Linked DNA regions of Homo sapiens: region 2 is reported to be linked to region 1. Evidence: microRNA targets listed by miRTarBase, many of them from high-throughput screens and not tested one by one. Region 1 holds a microRNA gene; the other region holds the end of a gene's coding sequence.

What was found. Region 1 holds the annotated microRNA hsa-miR-4765 (UGAGUGAUUGAUAGCUAUGUUC, at 2,903-2,924, shown strand). A microRNA usually pairs through its seed, bases 2 to 8, with sites in the 3' UTR of a target mRNA and lowers its output. Matches are read on the target gene's strand: a 7mer-m8 pairs with bases 2 to 8, a 7mer-A1 pairs with bases 2 to 7 and ends in A, and an 8mer does both.
Region 2: the mRNA of SRM is a reported target of hsa-miR-4765. Seed matches in the 3' UTR shown: 7mer-A1 at 583-589.

The regions. Positions count from the first base shown.
Region 1 is chr2:32,632,398-32,636,547 of GRCh38, forward strand. It overlaps MIR4765 (microRNA 4765), which reads left to right and starts at 2,858; the gene lies at 2,858-2,934. It overlaps TTC27 (tetratricopeptide repeat domain 27), which reads left to right. Exons shown (of 20, transcript NM_017735.5): 3 at 1,479-1,608.
Region 2 is chr1:11,051,202-11,055,201 of GRCh38, reverse strand. SRM (spermidine synthase) reads left to right here. Exons shown (of 8, transcript NM_003132.3): 7 at 118-240; 8 at 317-613. The coding sequence ends at 337. Among named protein-coding and RNA genes, the nearest start is that of MASP2, 6.0 kb to the right of the region's middle. RefSeq lists enhancers at 1,788-2,037, 2,368-2,447, 3,055-3,134.

The DNA.
Region 1 (4,150 bases):
ATTCACTGATATACCAGATTTCTATCTTGTCACATAAAGCTAAAAAGAGACATTTCAGTTGACTCATTTTCAGACATTTGAAAGTTAAAGTGTATTTTCAGTTCACCTTATGGATTTTGTTTTTTGATTAGGACAGTTTATTAAGGCTGTTTTCTCCAAATTTCCAAACTTCTGATTGCATACCAGCTCTTTTGTTATCTTTTTTCTCTAATGCTGCTTATTTGCATTGCATCCAGAGTTTTATATTTTTGCTACCATAGGCTTGTATGTTTGATTTTTTTTTTTCTTTTTCTGAAAGACTCTTCCTTTTAAGGAAGGGCCTAGGGGCTGTGGGGAAAAAAGTGATTACTAATACTTTCTCTTCAGAATGAAACTCCAGGATTCCCTGGCTGTTATTTGCTAGAGTTGGATCTGTACCTATTTAGATCCTAATTTAGGGTTTGGCACATTATGGCTGGCAGGCTAACTAAGTGGCTAAGAATTAATGGGTTTTACATTTTTAAAGGGTTGGAAAAAAACAAACATGATATGCAAAGCCTAAAATATTTCATATTTAGAAAAAGTTTGCCTATCCCTGTCTCACATCACAGCAAGACTGAAAAATAGAGTTTTCACTAAAATATCTATATGTTTTGTTGTTGTTGTTGTTCTAGCATTTGGTGGTATGGGATTGGTAAACAATTAGCAACAACTTTATATCATCACTTTTCTTTTGTATAAAGTCAGTTTTCTATACATCTTGCAACATCAGAGCTGTTAAAGGGAGTGCAAGAAAAACTTATAGATGTCTGATCAGAACCTAAATCAACACCGTTCAAGATAATTTTCCGTGGAGATAGAAGTGCTCTCTATCTTCATTGCCCACATGGTAGCCACTAGCCACACTTAACTATTGAGCACTTGAAATATGGAAAGTATGACTAAGGAACTGAATTATAAATTTTATTAATTTTAACTAATGCAAATTTAAACCATGTTTGGCTCGTGGCTATAATATTGGATATTGTAGACCTAATTTCTTTTTTTTTTAAGAGAGACAGGGTCTCGCTTTATCATCTAGGCTGGAGTACAGTGCTATGATCAAAGCTTACTACAGCCTCAAACTCCTGGGCTGCAAGCAATCCTCATGCATCAGCCTCTTGAGTAGCTGGGATGTACCACCATGCCGGCTAACTTTTAATTTTTTTGTAGAGACAGGGTCTCACTATGTTTCTCAGGCTGGTTTTGAACTCCTGGGTTCAAATGATCCTCCTACCGTGGCCTTCCAAAGTGCTGGAATTACAGGCATGAACCACTGTGCCTAGCTAACCTAAATTGTTTTAAGTTTTAGAAATTTTTTTTTTTGGTAATACTCTAGGATAGTCTCAATAAATGTTGATAGATATTATTTTCTTAATAAAACTGAAATGGAATAGTGTGTTTGAGATTATACAGTGATAGTAGTTCATATTTATTTCTTTAACCATTCTTATATGCAGACAACAGTTGATATTTCTACTTGGTGTGAGCAGTTTGCAACTTTTTGTTCAGAGCAACTGGACGGGGCCCCCTGTTGACTTACACCCTCAGGACTTTTTGTCATCTGTTTTGTTCCAGCAATTCAGTGAGGTATGCTTCTTGAAAATGTTGTATGTAATTATTATTATGTTATTTATTTTTTATAAGCAGGTCTTTATAAACTGGAACTCATAGTAGGAAAGAAACATGACTTTATGGTTTGCACAAAAGTACTAAGAATGCTTGTTCATTGATCAGATTTTCACAGATTTCCAGAAGTTCCTTTGTCAAACTCCTCTTCATACACACTCCATTTTATGGAGCTGTGTTAGCTGTGTTTTTTAATGAAAGTACAGACAGCTGCACCAGTTGTTTAGTTGGTTGTATCACCTCAGTTACATAAAGATTTTTTTTTTTTGAGATGGTATCTCACTCAGTCATCCAGGCTGTTGTACAGTGGCTGGATTACAGCTCACTGCACCCTCAACCTACTCAGGCTCAGGCGATCTTCCCACCTCAGCCTCCCAAGTAGTTGGGACTACAGTTGCATGCCAACATGTCCAGCTAATTTTTTTGTAGAGATGGAGTTTTGCCATGTTGCCCAGGCTGGTCTGAAACTCCTGGGCTCAAGTGGTCTGCCTGCCTCAGCCTCCCAAAGTGCTAGGATTATAGGTGTGAGCGCTGTACATAAAGATCTTTAATGGCAAAGCAGCAAATCTGGAAATCTGTTTAATTTTATTTCAGGTAAGTTTTTAACTAATTAATTAATTAATTTTTTTTGAGACAGAGTCTTGCTCTGTCACCCAGGCTGGAGTACAATGGCGCGATCTCAGCTCACTGCAACCTCTGCCCCATGGGTTCAAGCAATTCTTCTGCTTCAGCCTCCCTAGTAGCTGGGATTACAGGCGTGTGCTACCACACTTGGCTAATTTTTGTATTTTTACTAGATGTGGGGTTTCTCCATGTTGGCCAGGCTGGTCCCAAACTCCTGACCTTAAGTGATCCTCCCACCTCAGCCTCCCAAAGTGCTGGGTTTACAGGCGTGAGCCACCATTCCCGGCTTGCAGGTAAGTTTTGATACTGTACTTAAGAATGGCTCCCAGGAGTGGTTTGCTCCCAGGGGTGGCTTTAAATTACAAATACTTTATTAAAGTTTCTGGCACAGCATTGCTTCATGGTGATTATTATCCATTGTGAAGATAATATTATCGATCTGTGCCAGTGTGTCGCCAATAGAGCTTGCAGTTTGAGTTCCTCAGGAATCTTGAGCTCCTATATAGAGGGTCTGGCTAGTATGAGATGATCTACAAAAGAAGTATGGTTTAAATCAAAGTAAGAACTTTGATTTATCCAGCCACTTTGGTGATTTTGAACGTAGCTATCCACCACTCAGCCTGGAAAAAGCTGAGTGATTGATAGCTATGTTCAAAATCACCAAATTGTATCCAGAACTCGTGCAGCAAAACAGACCTAGTGTTACCTGGTTTCTCAGAATTAGGTGTAGCAAGTAGGCCGGGCACAGTGGCTCATGCCTGTAATCCCAGCACTTTGGAAGGCCAAGGCGGGCGGTTCACGAGGTCAGGAGTTCAAGACCAGCCTGATCAACATGGTGAAACTCCGTCTTACTAAAAATACAAAAATTAGCCGGGTGTGGTGGTGCACGCTTGTAATCCCAGCTACTCAGGAGGCTGAGGCAGGACAATTGCTTGAACCCGGGAGGCGGAGGTTGCAGTGAGCCAAGATCACGCCACTGCACTCCAGCCTGGGTGACAGAGTGAGACTCCATTTCAAAAAAAGAAAAAAGAAAAAGAATTGGGTGTAGCAAGTAAATGTGGAATAGAGTTATTAGAGATATGTGTTAATAATTTGATGGGGGGGTAGAAAGAGAAGAAGTGCAAAAACAAGCATAAAGTGAAAACCACAATAATTAACTCTTTGCATATCAGCTTAGTGAGTCACTATATATACTTCATTAGAGTAATTTTAATCCATAATGCTGATCCTAATTATAACTGAAAGGTTAAAAGATGTTTTGTGTCTTATGTCTATGAAGGGAATTTATAATTTATATTCTACAGAGGTTTTCATCCAAAATGGGAGTAAAAAAACCCCAAACCCTAAATGATTGTAGCAGTTAAAGAGATAAGCTTCAGTTATCTAGAAATGTACTTAGGAAACATCTCATTCCCTCTCTTATTATGTATGAATCAGTTTCTGGCTTCTATGGCCCTATAGTATAGATTAGAAATCCACCAAACAGCCAAAGCCATAAATATCTCCTGAACACTGATGTGTGGTTTGAATGGTACTTAATTCGCATTTCTTTTTTTTTGTTTTGAGACGGAGTCTCACTCTGTCGCCCAGGCTGGAGTGCAGTGGTGCGATCTCGGCTCACTGCAGTCTCTGCCTCCCGGGTTCAAATGATTCTCCCACCTCAGCCTCCCAAGCAGCTGGGACTACAGGTGCTCACCACCACGCCCGGCTAATTTTTGTATTTTTAGTAGAGACGGGGTTTCACCATGTTGGCCAGGGTGGTCTCAAACTCCTGACCTCAGGTGATCCACCCGCCTCGGCCTCCCAAAGTGTTAGGATTATGGTGTGAGCCACTGCGCCTGGCCTTAATTCACATTTCTTGTGCCAATTTGGTCCTTAC
Region 2 (4,000 bases), not on the chromosome of region 1:
AGGTTGCAGTGAGCTGAGATGACGCCACTGCACTCCAGCGTGGCAACAGTGAGACTCCGTCTCAAAAAAAAAAAAAAAAAAGTGCCCCCCCTGATGTGCCCCTGGCCCGGTCCCCAGAGCACGAACTTCCAGGAGCCGGTGCAGCCGCTGACACAGCAGCAGGTGGCGCAGATGCAGCTGAAGTACTACAACTCCGACGTGCACCGCGCCGCCTTTGTGCTGCCCGAGTTTGCCCGCAAGGTGGGTGGCCTGCGGGGCTGGGTGGTGGGACCCAGGGACCCAGAGCGCCCTCCTGACTGGCCTCATGTCCCTCCAGGCCCTGAATGATGTGAGCTGAGCCCAGGCGCCACCACTGATGCCACCCAGGACCTCGGACCTTGGAGCCTGCGGGGTGCCTCGGCCCCTCCAGCCCCGGGCCGGACCTCCTGCTGGCTCTCGCCCACCAACCAAGTGTTACAAGCCCCAGAATGCTGCCCGGCCTGCCCTGCTGGGCGGACTGTCTGTGTGTCTGTCTCTCTGGCGTTCCACCTCCAAGCCTATACCAGCTGTGTACAGCGCCATCTCTCTGCCTTCTGTTGCCCCTCACTCACCAAACACGTGTATTTATAGCAAAGATTGGAGTCCTGTGTCTCCTGACCTTGGCTGGGCCCAGGCAGGGCCACATTCACCATTGGGTGCCTCTGGGGTGAGGGTCTGCAGAGGCCTTGCTGGCTGACCCCCAAGTGTCTGCTGCAGGGCTGAGGCTGCAGGCGGGCCATCGTGGATAGCCTGGGGCACAGAGGGTCACCGCAGTCGTCACGTGGGACCCAGAGCTGTCCTGGGAAGCTGACTTAGCTGTCCTTTTACCAAGCCCTTCACAAGGCCACTGGTGACAGCCCCCCAGGGCAGTGGGGTGGGTGAGATCAGGGTGGGGCTGCCCGGGAGCATTCTCAGAAAAATTGGGGACACTCACAGGTGTAAGTCAGGTCCCATCCAGGTACTCCAGGGCAAATACAGGAAGGGGTGGCGGGGCTGGTTACCTTCGGCCTTTTTAAGCACATCAGGAGCTTAACACTGGCCCAGTGACTGTGCCCTGACTCCACCCGGCATTCAGACTTGGGTTCAAATTCCCACCATGCCCCGCCCCCTATGTGGACAAATTGAGAAAGCAAGTGTGGGCACCCCACCAGGGACTGCGAGGACCAGGGCTGTCCCCTCTCCAAGGTGCTGAACTCCCGCCTTCCAGGACCCAACGGTGGTGGGAGGACAGGAAAGGAACCCTCTTTGCATGGGCCTGAGTTGCCAACCCCTTTCCCCACCCTGGGCAGGGGCTGGGCTAGCGGACGCATCAGGGAGGGAGGCCCCACTCCCAGCCGAGGCAGCCACCTTGGAGCCCTAACTCACCCGGGTATGTTTTCTGGGACACCAGAGTAAGGGGGATTCAGTTTCGCCATCAACTCTGGCTTCAGGCCAGTCATAGCCCTCCAGTCTCCACCTGCCCCCCACTCCCCACCCCTGTGAATTCACCAGACTGAGCACCTTCAGACCTTTGGCCCATCAGCAGATCTGACCTCAGGCTAACTTCTCCAGGCCACCCTGACCTTTCAAATCAGTCTGGGGAGCTGGCGTCTGCCCCCGGGCCTTCATAGTCTCAGGGAAGGCCCGAGAGGAGCAGCTGGCGTTCAGGTGGGTTGGCAGGGGCTATTTCTGGAGCCTGACAGGCCAGGCTGCAGCTGGGTGGGCCAGGCACTTTCATTTAACCTTCACAACCACCTGCCCGCCAGGCATTGTTCCTGCTGCACAGAGGCAAGGCGATGTGCCTAAGGACACACAGCCAATCAGCAGCCACCGTCCGACGCCACTCCACCCTGCTCACCCCAGGGTCTCCTGCATCTCAGGCCAGGCACTCTGGAGGTCCCGGCATGGATGGTCTCTCTGACATCTACTCCCTGGCCAAGATCCAGGCAGGGAATGCTGCCCCCTTAGAGGGACGATCCCGTGACCCCCTAAGTGTGAGGGCCTTTCCCCAAGGGCTCTGGAATCGGTCCAGATCTCAATCTCAACTCTGCCTCCCTCAGCTCTGTGACCTGCAGCCACGCAGGCCCTCTGCCGGTTACCCCGATGTCAGAGGGGGAGCACACCGTCCCTGTTAGGAAGCTTTGGTGAGAAGCACGTGCGACGCAGCCCTCAACCAGTGCCGGCCCGAGAGAAGGGAGGGTGGACCAGGTTGTGGAAACAGCCGGGGCCATCTGGGAGGCAGGAGATCTGGGAAGCAGCTGCAGGAAGATGAAGTTGCCGGCAGCGTAGATCCTGCGCCTCCCCAGCCTATAGTCTATACACACACCTGGCCGCCGCGAAGAGGCATGCACCAGGGATGGGGGCAAGCCTGAGCCCCACGACTGGGTGGGTGCGATGCAGCCCAGGATGATCTGCTGAAACAGAAACAGCCTTGATGAGGACACAACCTGGGTCCCCCAGCGTCCCAGAAATCTTTGGGCCACAAACAGGCCCAGTGTGGCATGGGGAATAACATCAATCCTATCTAGACTTTTCAAAATTTGATTTATGATAATTAGCCAGGCCCCTGGCTTAAGGATTCATGGGTCCGTGCGGCTTGTCAGAAGAAAAATCACAGTCCTCCTCCCGCAGCCCCTTTCCCTCTTGGAGCTGATTATTTGGGGTTTATCTTCTGTAGTAGAAGAAGAAATCGATTTGGTGTTTGTCCCCAGTTCCTGTCACGGAGCCGCTAACACCTTTGGAAATTCCTGATCGGTAGGCGTGTCTTGTCGTTCATTATATGCTCTGTTAGAGAACTCCCGAGTTTATGCTAATGCAGTGGTCTAGGGTAGAGCCCCGGGGGAGCCTCAGGGTGGGGCTGGTAAGTAAGACCTAAAGACTGAAGGGTTGGGACTTTCACCCCACCCAATGACTGCCAGGAAAGGATCAGGAGGGCTCTGGAGATGAAGCTGTACAAATTCATGAACAATGAGCGCAGCCCCGGGTGGTGGCTCATGCCTGTAATCCCAGCACATTGGGAGGCCGAGGTGCGCAGATCACTTGAGGCCAGGAGTGTTGGGAGGGCAACATGGCAAAACCTCGTCTCTACTAAAAACACAAGCATTATCCTGGTGTGGTGGCGCACGTCTATAACCCCAGCTACTCGGAAGGCTGAGGCAGGGGAATCACTTAAACCCAGGAAGCGGAAGTTGTGAAACTGCCTTTGCCAAATTATGACTGAGACAGTGAAAGAGACCTAACTTAGCCAACTCCATCTTGCTTCTAGCCTCCAAGCTGTCCTTCTTCATTCCTGGGCGTAGGCTGAACTAACGTTGGGAGAAATTTAGTTTATAGTTTAAACAAAGACGGTCACAGCCCTTTCTCAAAGCAGATGTTCTTGCCTGGGGACTAGACTGTCTTTGTAGGATTAACATTAGCCACAAGATTAGAAATTATGGTTTAGAGTCATGCAGCTGGAGGCTACGAGATTCCCACCCTCCCTAAACTGCTCCTAAGATCAGTGCTTGAGATATTTTGCAGATCCTGCCTTGATGGATCAGCCGGCACCACCCAGATGGATAAACGGGCTCATCTGATCTTGTGACCCCCACCCAGGACTCAGTGCAAGAAAACAGCTCTGACTCCGACTGCCTGTGATTTCATCTCTGACCAGTCAGCACTCCTGGCTCACTGGCTTCCCCCTACCCACCAGGTTATCCTTAAAAACTCTACTCCCCGAATGTTCGGGGAGACTGATTTGAGTAATAGTAAAATTCTGGTCTCCCGCACAGCCAGCTCTGCGTGAATTACTCTTTCTCTATTGCAATTCCCCTGTCTTGATGAATCAGCTCTGTCTAGACAGCTGGCAAGGTGAACCCCTTGGGCGGTTACAGTTACAGTGAGCCGAGATCGCGCCACTGCGCTCCAGCCTGGGTGACAGAGCAAGACTCTGTCTTAAAAAAAAAAAGGAAAAAAAAGAAAAAAACCAGTTAAAGAAAATAAAAGGAAAAAGCAAAAGAAAAAA